Linked DNA regions of Homo sapiens: region 1 is linked to region 2. The links come from fine-mapping of genetic effects on gene expression. A gene starts in region 2. The other region holds a variant in brackets. All regions are shown on one strand. Distances are between the middles of the regions. Region 1 overlaps RB1CC1 (RB1 inducible coiled-coil 1). Region 2 holds the start of NPBWR1 (neuropeptides B and W receptor 1).

Region 1 (5,379 bases), 240 kb after region 2:
GTCATTGTTCTGTGGAATGCTTATTCTGAATTTAACTGATTCATCATAATGTTTGTCTTTTTCTTTATACTCCATATTTCCTAGAAACTGGAAACCGTAGGTACATATAGTTGCTTGATTAAATTCAGGTTTACTTTTTCAGAGGTGGTCTGGGGTGGCAAGAAAACTTTATACTTGGGCTGTGTCCAGTTGAATCGCTATTAGCTGGAGGTTTTCCATATAAATGGACTGAAATACGTATCTTTTTTGTTTTGTTTTGTTTTTTGTTTTGAGACGGTCTCTCTCCCTTGCCCAGGCTGGAGTACAGTGGTGTGATCTTGGCTCACTGCATCCTCCATCCCCCAGGCTGAAACAATCCTCCCACCTCAGCCCCGCAAGTAGCTGGGAGTACAGGTGTGCACCATCATGCCTGGCTAATTTTTGTATATTTTGTAGAGACAGGGTTTTGCCATGTTACCCAGGCTGGTCTTGAACTCCTGAGCTCAAGTGATCAGCCTGCCTAGGCCTCCCAAAGTGCTAGAATTACAGGCATGAGCCACTGTGCCCAGCTATCCAAAATACATTTCATATAGGAAGGACAGTGCTTAATTTCTTTGCTTTTTAAGTTTTTATCATGGGTTCTATCTTAGCTCACTGAGGTTTTTTGTTTTTGTTTTTTTGAGTATCATTATGCAGCATGGATTTTTATGGGTTTTTGCCATTCAGTTACTTGTACTCATTCTTTTGATGGTCAGACTGTCCCATCATAGCCAGTAGAAGCCTTTTAAAGTTGTTTTCCTTGCCTTTTTGACCTAATCTCTTTAGTCTTTGTTAGCTGTCTTGCTTTATGGCATATTAAGATGTTCCAGGCTTATGTGATTGGTACATTTTCTACTTTAGACATTTAGCATTAGCCACTTCTCCAAAGGTTCTTTCTAGAAACCAAAGTAGGCCGGGCGTGGTGGCTCACACCTGTAATCCCAGCACTTTGGGAGGCCGAGGCGGGTGGATCATGAGGTCAGGAGTTCGAGACCATCCTGGCCAACATGGAGAAACTCTGTCTCTCTGAAAATACAAAAATTAGCCGGGCGTGGTGGTGGGTGCCTGTAATCCCAGCTACTTGGGAGGCTGAGGCAGGAGAATCGCTTGAACCCAGGAGACAGAGGTTGCAGTGAGCCGAGATTGTGCCATTGCACTCCAGTCTGGGCGACAAGAGCAAGACTCCGTCTGAAAAACAAAAAAACCATAGTATGAGTGTGTAATGAGGTTAGCCAACTCTACAGTTAGAAGGAACAGTCCCACAAAACTGCCCTCATTTCAGGTACTAGTGGCAAGTTTGGCGGTGCCCAGAACCCACCCTCACTTCAAACCAGCTGACTACAAACTCACAGGTTCCCCATATCCACCCTCTCTTTGGAGAATTCACTGGAACAGGTCAGGGAACGAAGGAAAGCACTATACTCACAATTACACTTTTATTATAAGAGAAGGATACAAAAATTAAAATCAGGCAATGGCAGAGAGCAGAATCTGGAAGGGGTCCAAACTCAGAGCTTCTGGCCATCATTGCTGGTGGAGTCATAGACAGTGTTACCTTCTCTTGGCCACAACGCGTGACAGTATACACAGAGTATTGCTCACTAGGGAAGCTCACCTGAGTCTTTGGTGTCCAGAGTTTTTATTATGGCTTGATCCTGTACTGTCCACATGACTCACCTTTAGTCTCTAGCCCTTTCTGGAGGTCAGACCAATGTCTTTAGTCAGTAGTTCCTCTGGAGGTCAGAACTTAACTGATACATGAGTCACGTTGCTACACTGACGTGACTGAAGCCCTAAGGCAAACAAACACAGTTCTATCTGTCAGGATATTACAGGGGCCTAGAGATCACCTCCCAGTAGCGAAGGGCAAAGGCCAGACCTTTCTTTGGTTAATGTTAATTTTTCACTGCCTGTTGTGCTGTGGGTACTTCTGGCTCTAGGTCTGTCAATGCCTTCTTTTCAATGGAGCTATGGAATAAATGTTTTATGGAAAGAGAAAAATTCTTGTTTATACTAGTATTTCTAAAGTACTTTTTACTTCTTTATACATTTTATTTCTTTTCTCTTGGGTTGAAAACCTTGGAATCTTAGGTCGAAAATCTTGCTTGCTTAGTAGGAGAAAAATACTGTCTTCTTTTTAGATTTGTAATTCTTTGATTACTGAAGAGGCCTCAAATATTTTCCACATTTGTTAACCACTTGATAACCTACTCATGCCCTTTGCCTATTTATCTATTGTGAGTCTTTGTGATTTTCTTATTAATTTATAGGAACTCCTACTAAAAAGCTAATAGTAATCCTTAGTCACTTGTTATTGTCATTTTCACCAGTAATCACATCTTTGGATATTTGAATTAAATGATGGGTGGCAGGTATGGAAAATATCTTCTTCTTTTTGGTTTTCTACCCTTTCCTCTCCCACTAAACTAGAATACCAGTCATTGTGTGATCAGTCCTGGGTCTATCATCTGTTAGAAAGAAAACTGGGAAATTGGGCTTGTCTCTGGGCAGGACTTCTTTGTATTGTTGCTGTCACTTCCATATGATGGAAGTGCTGCTTACCAGGAGGTTCAGTCCTTCACTAGTAGATGCCTGGTATTAACTAAAGTATGTGCAGCTCTCACTGAAGTGGCTGTAGTTGCTTAAGCTTTGGAGGAAGAGGCACACACTTTCTCTCTAAAGGACCAGATAGTTAAGTATTTTAGGCTTTACTCTCCAAGAGGCAAAATTGAGGCTATGATGTATAGATGTTTAATGTAATAAGAGAGAAAACTCCTGCTGCGTCCCGTTTGTCCGGGATGAGCCATCCAGGATGGTGGGCATGTTTTGTGCCCAGTTGGCATCAGTTCGAGACTGTCTCCGGATCCACAGGGGACTACCCGGGGGGGATGAGCCTGGGAGTAGAGGCCAACACCATGTTATTTTCTGCTTTGAGAGCAGATCC[T/G]GAATCACCCTCCTCTTCTTCCTGAAAGCCTGGTGGGAGACCACGTGACCTGTTGAGTCTTCCACTCTAGAGCCAAGATTATACTCCTCACTGTCCTGCAGTTGCCAGCAGTAGGGTGGAGTTCCCTATTTGAAGGTGGCCCCAGTGTGTGTCCTGGGAGTGAAGTGTGTGAGGATGCAAAGGGGTAGCTGTCTGTGTTAAACACTCAGCTCTGTTCTTGGCTACGATAGGTAGGTTCTCCTCTATATGTTTCTTTAGCTGTGAAGTGTTCAGTATGCACATTTCTAGAGAATTCCACACTGCCAGGATGACCAGGTATGGAAAAATTTCTCTCTGCTACATGCCAAGATCACCTTTTCTTTTCTTAAATTTTAAGTTAAAGGGTACATGTGCGGGATATATGGGTTTGTTACATAGGTAAACATGTGCCATGGTGGTTTGCTGCACAGATTATCCCATCACCTAAGTATTAAGCCCAGCATCCATTAGCTATTCTTCCTGATGCTGTCCCTCCTCCCACCCTTCACCCTCTGACAGGCCCCAGTGAGTGTTGTTTCCCCATCCTACCCCCGTGTGTCTATATGTTCTCATCAGTAACAGGATTGCTGGGTTAAATGGTATTTCTGCCTCAAGGTCTTTGAGGAATCGCCACACTGTCTTCCACAATGGTTGAACTAATTTACACTCCCACCAACAGTGTAAAAGCATTCCTTTTTCTCCACAACCTTGCCAGCATCTGTCTTTTTCTTTGACTTTTTAATAATATCCATTCTGACTGGTGTAAGATGATATATCATTATGGTTTTGCTTTACATTTCTCTAATGATCTTTGATGTTGAGCTTTTTTTTCATGTTTGTTGGCTACATGTATGTTTTCTTTTTCTTGTAAATTTGTTTAAGTTCCTTGAAGATGCTGGATATTAGACCTTTGTCAGATGGATAGATTGCAAAAATTTTCTTCCATCCCGTAGGTTGTCTGTTCACTCTGATGATAGTTTGTTTTGCTGTGCAGAAGCTCTTTAGTTTAATTAGATTCCATTTGTCAATTTTTGCTTTTGTTGCAATTGCTTTTGGCTTTTTTGTCATGAAACCTTTGCTGTGCCTATGTCCTGAATGGTATTGCCTAGGTATTCTTCTAGGGTTTCATAGTTTTGGGTTTTACATTTAAGTCTTTAATCCATCTTGAGTTGATTTTTGTATGTGGTGTAAGGAAGGGATTCCGTTTCAGTTTTCTGCATATGGCTAGCCAAGACTCCAAGCACCGTTTATTAAATAGGGAATCCTTTCCCCATTGCTTGTTTCTGTCAGGTTTGTGGAAGATCAGGTGGTTGTAGGTGAAGATCACCTTTTCATTTATGGACACAAGGAAATCTTGTTCTCTCAGGATCTGGGTCCATGCCATTTCTTGGATGATGACTTTGCTTTCTGTTGAAAACCTTACCTTGTCACATTTAAAGTGTTCTGTTATTCCACTCTTCTTACTTCATATTGAAAGAGGTTTTTTTTGTATTGTATTTAGTAAAGGAAATTTTTTAAATGGTCACATAAGGGAGAAAATCTGCAAGGGGAAAAAAGTGTTGCTATTTCTAAAGGAATAGTAAAGTCCCAAGTCATAGAATATGCTTACTACATGTAGTCTTATTTAAGGGATTTTAATGTAGTATGTTCATGTTCTTTTTTCCCCCGTGATCCAGCTATGGATTTTAAGTTTTTACAACTTTCTTTCTATGTGACTTTAGGAAATAACTTCTTTGAGCCATAGTTTTGTCATATGAATGATGCGGATAATTCTTAACCTCTCTCACTATAGGATTTGTAAGAATATCATATACTTCATACAGTTCTTACTCATGTTTCCAGTCAATGGAAGCTATTGCTATGCCAACAGTATCATTATCTCTAAAGAATAAAAGCAAAGTGGAAGTATGTATTTTGGAACTTCATGTTTGTTTTTACTTTAAAAAAAAGATTTTTTGTAGCTTTTTTCCCCCTGAAAGTAGGTATCATGGAGTTTTATATAAATATAAAATTTTCATGTTGCCCACTATGATATTAAAATTCATGAGAGCAGACAGTTTTATTATTTTGTATTTTATTCCCAAAGTTAAGAAAATGCCTGGTACCTAACTAGATTCTCAGGTGATATTTTTATTGAATGAATGAATTTATTGACCTGTGTTCACACCCCTGGCTAAGTTTACTTTTGTTTTGGTTTACTAAGTTTGTTCCTTTAGACAAGTTTAATCTGAATTGTAATTTCTCATCTGCAAATGGAAACCCTAATGATATGAATGTATTACATGTAATGATAAATGAAGTCATGCATGTAAAGCTACTTAGCATTATGAGTGGTATACAATGAATAACTCAATAAGTATTAGCAATGATTATGATTATGATTTTATGTGCCATTTACT
Region 2 (5,379 bases):
CCGCTGGCTCCTCCAGGGGGCGCCGGAACCGCGCGCCCGGGCTACTCCGGGTTCCTTGCTCCGGGAGTCTGACATTTTCAGGGGAGATCACGGATAGGAAAGGGAAAAGGCAAAGAAAAGGAGTAGGGGCAGACAGAAAGAAGGATCACTATTCGTATCATATTCTAGGCAGTCACTGCCAAGCGCCAGCCTCTTTCCCCGCATTTCATGCCTCCGCAAACGCGCGCACACCACACACACACACACACAGGTGTATACACACTCCGATGGGGCATCCCGAGTTGTTGTGTTTTCCCCAGTTGAAGAGGCGCTGGCGGCCTCGGCAGCGGTCCCCGCCCGCGGCGCCAGGCCAAGCGGGTCTCACAGGGGTGGGCGCCAAACGCGCGCGCCTGACCGTCTTCCCAGAGCGCGCGGAGGACAAGGGGACCCGCCGGGGCTGTGCGCCAGCTACAGCAGGGGCCGCGCGGAGCCGACGCCTGGGGGCGCCGGCAGCGTCCTCGGGCCTCCCTTCGAAGGCGCGGAGAGTTCCGACTCCAGCCAGGTTCCAGACTGCCAGGGCTCGGGTGGGGCAGCAGGGAGCAGGGCAGGGAGGGGGCGGTTCCCAGCAATACCGCCCTCCTCCTCTACCCTCCTCTTCCTCCACCTCGGCTTTAGGGAGCCCTCAGTGTGGCGATCTCAGCCTCAGTTCTCCTCACCCGGCATGGCCGCGCATCACCTGGAGGGCTTGGCAAGGTCAACCTGCGGGCACAGTCGCAGCGCTTCCGATCTGCTAGGTCGGGTATGGGGCGCGAGTCGGTTTCCCCAGGAGGCCTAGGCGGCCTGTCTGGTCCCGCACTCTGGCGCCGGCTCCTCCCTCGCTGGCCAGGAGTGGCGGGCAGTTGCGGAGCCGGACGCTGGGGGAGTCAGGCTGCCGCGCGGCAAGTTATCAGCTGGCGGAGGTTCCTGCGGAAGCTGGCGTCCAGGAAGGCGTAGAGGAAGGGGTTGAGGCAGCTGTTGGCGTAGCTCAGGCTGGTGATGAAGTAGGAGATAGCGATGACCAGCGGCGTCTGCGGGAGGTCGGTGGTGAGCGCCACCACGGTGCTCAGGTGGTAGGGCGTCCAGCAGAGGAGGCACACCGCCAGGATTGCCACCACCAGGAAGGTCACCCGCTTCTTGGCGCGCTCCAGGGCCTTGGCGTGGCTGTCCAGCCGCATGGCATGCAGCCGGCACAGCAGGGTGGTATAGAGGACACAGATGGTGGACACGGGGATGGCGAAGCCCAGCACGAGCGTGTAGAGGCGGCTCGCGCGCCACCAGAAGGCCTCGGGCTGCGGAAAGACTAGCACGCACTGGCGCCGGCCCTGCTCGTCGTCTAGCCGGGCGAAGACTGCGAAGGGCAGCACGACGAGTGTGACGATCCCCCACACGGCCAGGCTCACCGCGCGCGCGGCGCTGTAGGTGCGGCCGGCCACCCGGCGCGACTCCGCAGTGGCCAACACCACCAGGTAGCGGTCGGCGCTCATGACGGTGAGGAAGTAGAGGCTGGAGAAGGTGTTGTACTGGTCGATAGCCACGATGAGCTTGCACATGAGCTCCCCGAAGGGCCACTGCCGCAGCAGGAAGTCGGCGATGTTGATGGGCAGCACCAGCGTGAAGAGCTCGTCGGCGATGGCCAGGTTGAGGATGAACAGGTTGGTGACGGTCTTCATGCGGGGCGCCCGCAGCAACACGTACAGCACGGCGGAGTTGCCCGCCAGACCCACGGCGCAGATCACCGCGTAGACAACTGGTACAGCCACCGCCAGCGGCGCCGGCAGCGGCGCCAGAGTCGACGCGTTGGAGCAGCTCAGCGCCGGGTCCGGGCCCGATGCGTTGGCGGGCCAGGGCTCCGAGAACGAGGCGTTGTCCATCTCAACGAGGGCAGAGGAGCCGGCGACCTGGCGTCCCCCAAGGACGCCCTACGGAGCTCAGCGGTCCTGAAGCCCGGTTCTGCACGGACCTGCTCGCGGACGCTCGTTTCAGCTCTCCAAGCCGTTCTCTGGTTTTTCCGGAGGAGGGGACCGTTCCCAGCCACCCCACGGCCCAATGTCGCCGCGGACTCACGGGGCTGGAAAGAGGAATTTAAAGCATAGGTTAGTTCGTCGACGTGTAACTTTAGAAATAGGCGCGGTCCCGAGGAGGGGTGGGGGTGGCGCCGCGGCGCCCCAAACCTCCTCCACGTGAGCGCTCTCTGCTACCTGTTGAAATCTCACTTCTACCAGTTGAATACATCAAACGAAATGCTAGAGAGAGAAGAATCCTCCATAGGAAAAATGCAAACCCTTCTCCCCTCTTTCAGGAAACTTCCGTAGACCCAGGTTACCCCACAGAATCCCGCAGTGGCAAGCTTCGGTCTCCCCAGGGTCTGTGCGCCCTCAGTAACAGCAAGCTCAACAGCAGTCTTTACCTTACCTGGCTGGCTGGGGAAGGGGTCTGCCTTTCCTGGAGCTGTCAGGAGAAAAGCCCGCCGGCTGCGGGGAGGCTGAGACGCCTGCCGGCTGGGTGTCCGCCTCCCCCTGTCTGCCTCCCCCGAGTTCGCCAGAGTCCGCAGCTCGCGTCCCCGCCGGTCCCTCCCGCGCGCCTGGAAGTGCAGGGATGGCGCAGCCGCGACTGCGTTCCACTGCCCTGACCGCCGCGCCCACCCCCACACCCCAAGTAAAATGGTCTTAGAACAGAGAACAGAAATTCCCCCAAATTTAAGGGATTCCTTTCTTCCATCCCAGTCGTGCAACCTCACTCCATCTGAAATAATAGAAAGCTCTCCTGTTAAGAATCGAATTTAAGGAAAACAAAGTTAGGGTGTAAGTGATCTATTTTTAAAGGAGAACAATGTAGTGGAGGCGCCTGTTCCATTTTTTATACACCGTAACACAAATAGGCTAATGTAATGTGAAATCTGAAAGGAGGAAAAAGTGAGTGCAATTTTATAATGCAAATCACCTGTTTTCTGCTACTCTGGTCTTCAAGGGGATAGAAGATTGTTAGTATGTTTTCTAAAACTACTTCTACTTCTACTTTTGTGTAAGTAAAGACTTGATTAGTAAAGACAAACGGCTTCCGCAAAGCCTTTTAGGGAACCATGACAATGCGTATTTCATAAAACGTTACAAGTTGTTCAACACACTCTCTACTTATCCACACACTTGCCCGATTCTCCTGCTAATGAGAGCTATCCTGCGATCGCAGCGGAGAGTAGCCAAGGAAGGACTAGCAGGGGCAGTCTTGAACTCCCCTGTCGCTATTTCCCTGGACTTTGGATTCTTTCTCTAGGAAGGGAAAATCATCTTAGGCTCCTCACCAGTTCCCCTAAGAATCGAATGAAATAAACTAAATATTGGTTATTTCCAATTTCTGCTTTTTTTTTTTCTCCACATTTCCTTTAGGAGAGAGAGCAAATTAAAACACGAGATTATATCCTCTAGTAAACTACCCTTCCACAAAAGCAGGCGAAGCCCAAATAAAGTGTATTTTTGGTCCTCTAGGATGCATCTTAGAGAAGGGGGCCTGAGATCCAGAGAGACCTAAAGTCGGCAGTAGAAGACTGTGGGGCCAGAAATACAGTAGCCCCCCCATACCTATGGGGGATAGGTTCCAAGAGCCCCAGTGGATGCCTGAAACCATGGATAGTACCCATTGCGGTCAATGGGAACATGTTTCTGTTCTTCCATCCAAAAATGATGCAACAGCAAAACTAGCATGCATTTCTTTTTTCTTCTTCACATTTTCGTGGATAGATTTGTTTTTAGTAGATCTTGGCAACCTCTGCATATGATTTTTTTTCTTTCCTTATTAAGTCCAGAATTTTTACCTTTTAACTTAAAGGAGGCATTTGCAGCTTCTCTTTGGCATATCTGAATTGCCAGCATCACTTCTCTTGCACTTTGGAGCCAGAGAGAAATAAGGGCAAAAAGTCAGTAAAATCAAGGCAACTTGAAGACACCACACTGGTCATTGCCACAGTCATCTAATAACCCAGATTGTGAAGTGACTAACAGGTGGATATTGTAGACAGCAGGGAAACGCTGGGCAAAGGGAGGACTCACTTTCTGTGGGAAGGAGTAAGATGGCTGGATCTCATCACGCCAATCAGAAGTCAACACAATTGAAAACCTAGGAACTGTTTATTCCTGGAATTTTCTGTTTAATATTTTTAGACCACAGTTGACCACGAGTAACTGAAACTAGGGACTCCAAAACCACTGACAGGGGGATCCACTGTCCAAAAGCTCCCTGGAATTTACCTACTCAATTATCTTTTTACCAGGATCTATACAAATCGGCTCCCCTGCAGTTTCACACTTTCTGTGAAACAAAATAACAGATGATTCTTAAGCTATGTCCGTAAGAAACACTATATGATAAAACACCATATAATGTTAAAGAAAAAATATATATAATAGAAAATCTCCAAACGGTTGAAGATGATCAACTATATACACATACGTGTATACATACACATATATACACACACGTGTATATACACACACATATATACACACGCATATATACACGCACATATACACACGTGTATATACAGACACATATGCACGTGTATATACACACACATACACAGTGTATATACACACATATATGCACACTTGTGTGTATATACACACACATATGCACACGTGTATATACACATACACACGTGTGTATATACACACATATATACACACATGTGTGTATGTGTGTATATATGCACATGTATATAGTTTATACACGTGTGTATACACGTGTGAATGTTTGTATACACATATGCACATGTGTATATACGTGTATATACACGTATGTATACACGTGTGTCCATATATGTTTATGTGTATATATACACATGTATGTATATAGTTGATCATCTTCAACCGTTTGGAGATTTTCTAGCCTTTTTATTGTTGACTTCCAGTTGAATTACACTGTAAACTGAGAACATACTCAATATGACTTCAATTCATAGATATTTTTTGAAACTTACTCCCCAGTATATAGTTATTTTCTAATTATTTCATGTGTACTTGAAAAATTGTTTTGCACTTGTTGGGTGCAAAACTCTACATATGTCAACTAGTCAAACTTACTATGTTGTTCAAATTTCTCTATTGATTTTTTTTCTTTTTTTTTGAGACTGGGTCTTGCTTTGTCACCCAGGCTGAAGTACAGTGGTGCAATTGCAGCTCACTGCAGCCTCAACCTCCTGGGCACAAGTAATCATCCCCTCTCAGCACCCCTAGTAGCTGGGATTACAGGTGCGCATCACCACACCAGGCTAATTTTTTGTATTTTTCGTAGAGGCAGGATCTCACCATGTTGCCCAGGCTGGTCTTGAGTTCCTGAGCTCAAGCGAACCACCAACCTCAGCCTCCTAAA

The links. PIP is the estimated chance that this variant, and not a neighbour inherited with it, causes the effect.
Region 1: its variant is fine-mapped to the expression of NPBWR1 in unexposed skin (GTEx, PIP 0.97).

The regions. Positions count from the first base shown.
Region 1 is chr8:52,691,892-52,697,270 of GRCh38, reverse strand. The region is part of intron 1 of RB1CC1 (RB1 inducible coiled-coil 1); the gene reads left to right. Among named protein-coding and RNA genes, the nearest start is that of RB1CC1, 20 kb to the left of the region's middle. The variant T/G (reference allele first, on the strand shown) is at 2,963.
Region 2 is chr8:52,936,418-52,941,796 of GRCh38, reverse strand. NPBWR1 (neuropeptides B and W receptor 1) reads right to left here and starts at 2,615. Exons shown (of 2, transcript NM_005285.5): 1 at 2,431-2,615; 2 at 1-2,086. The coding sequence starts at 1,889. The coding sequence ends at 903. RefSeq lists enhancers at 1,177-1,808, 1,809-2,440.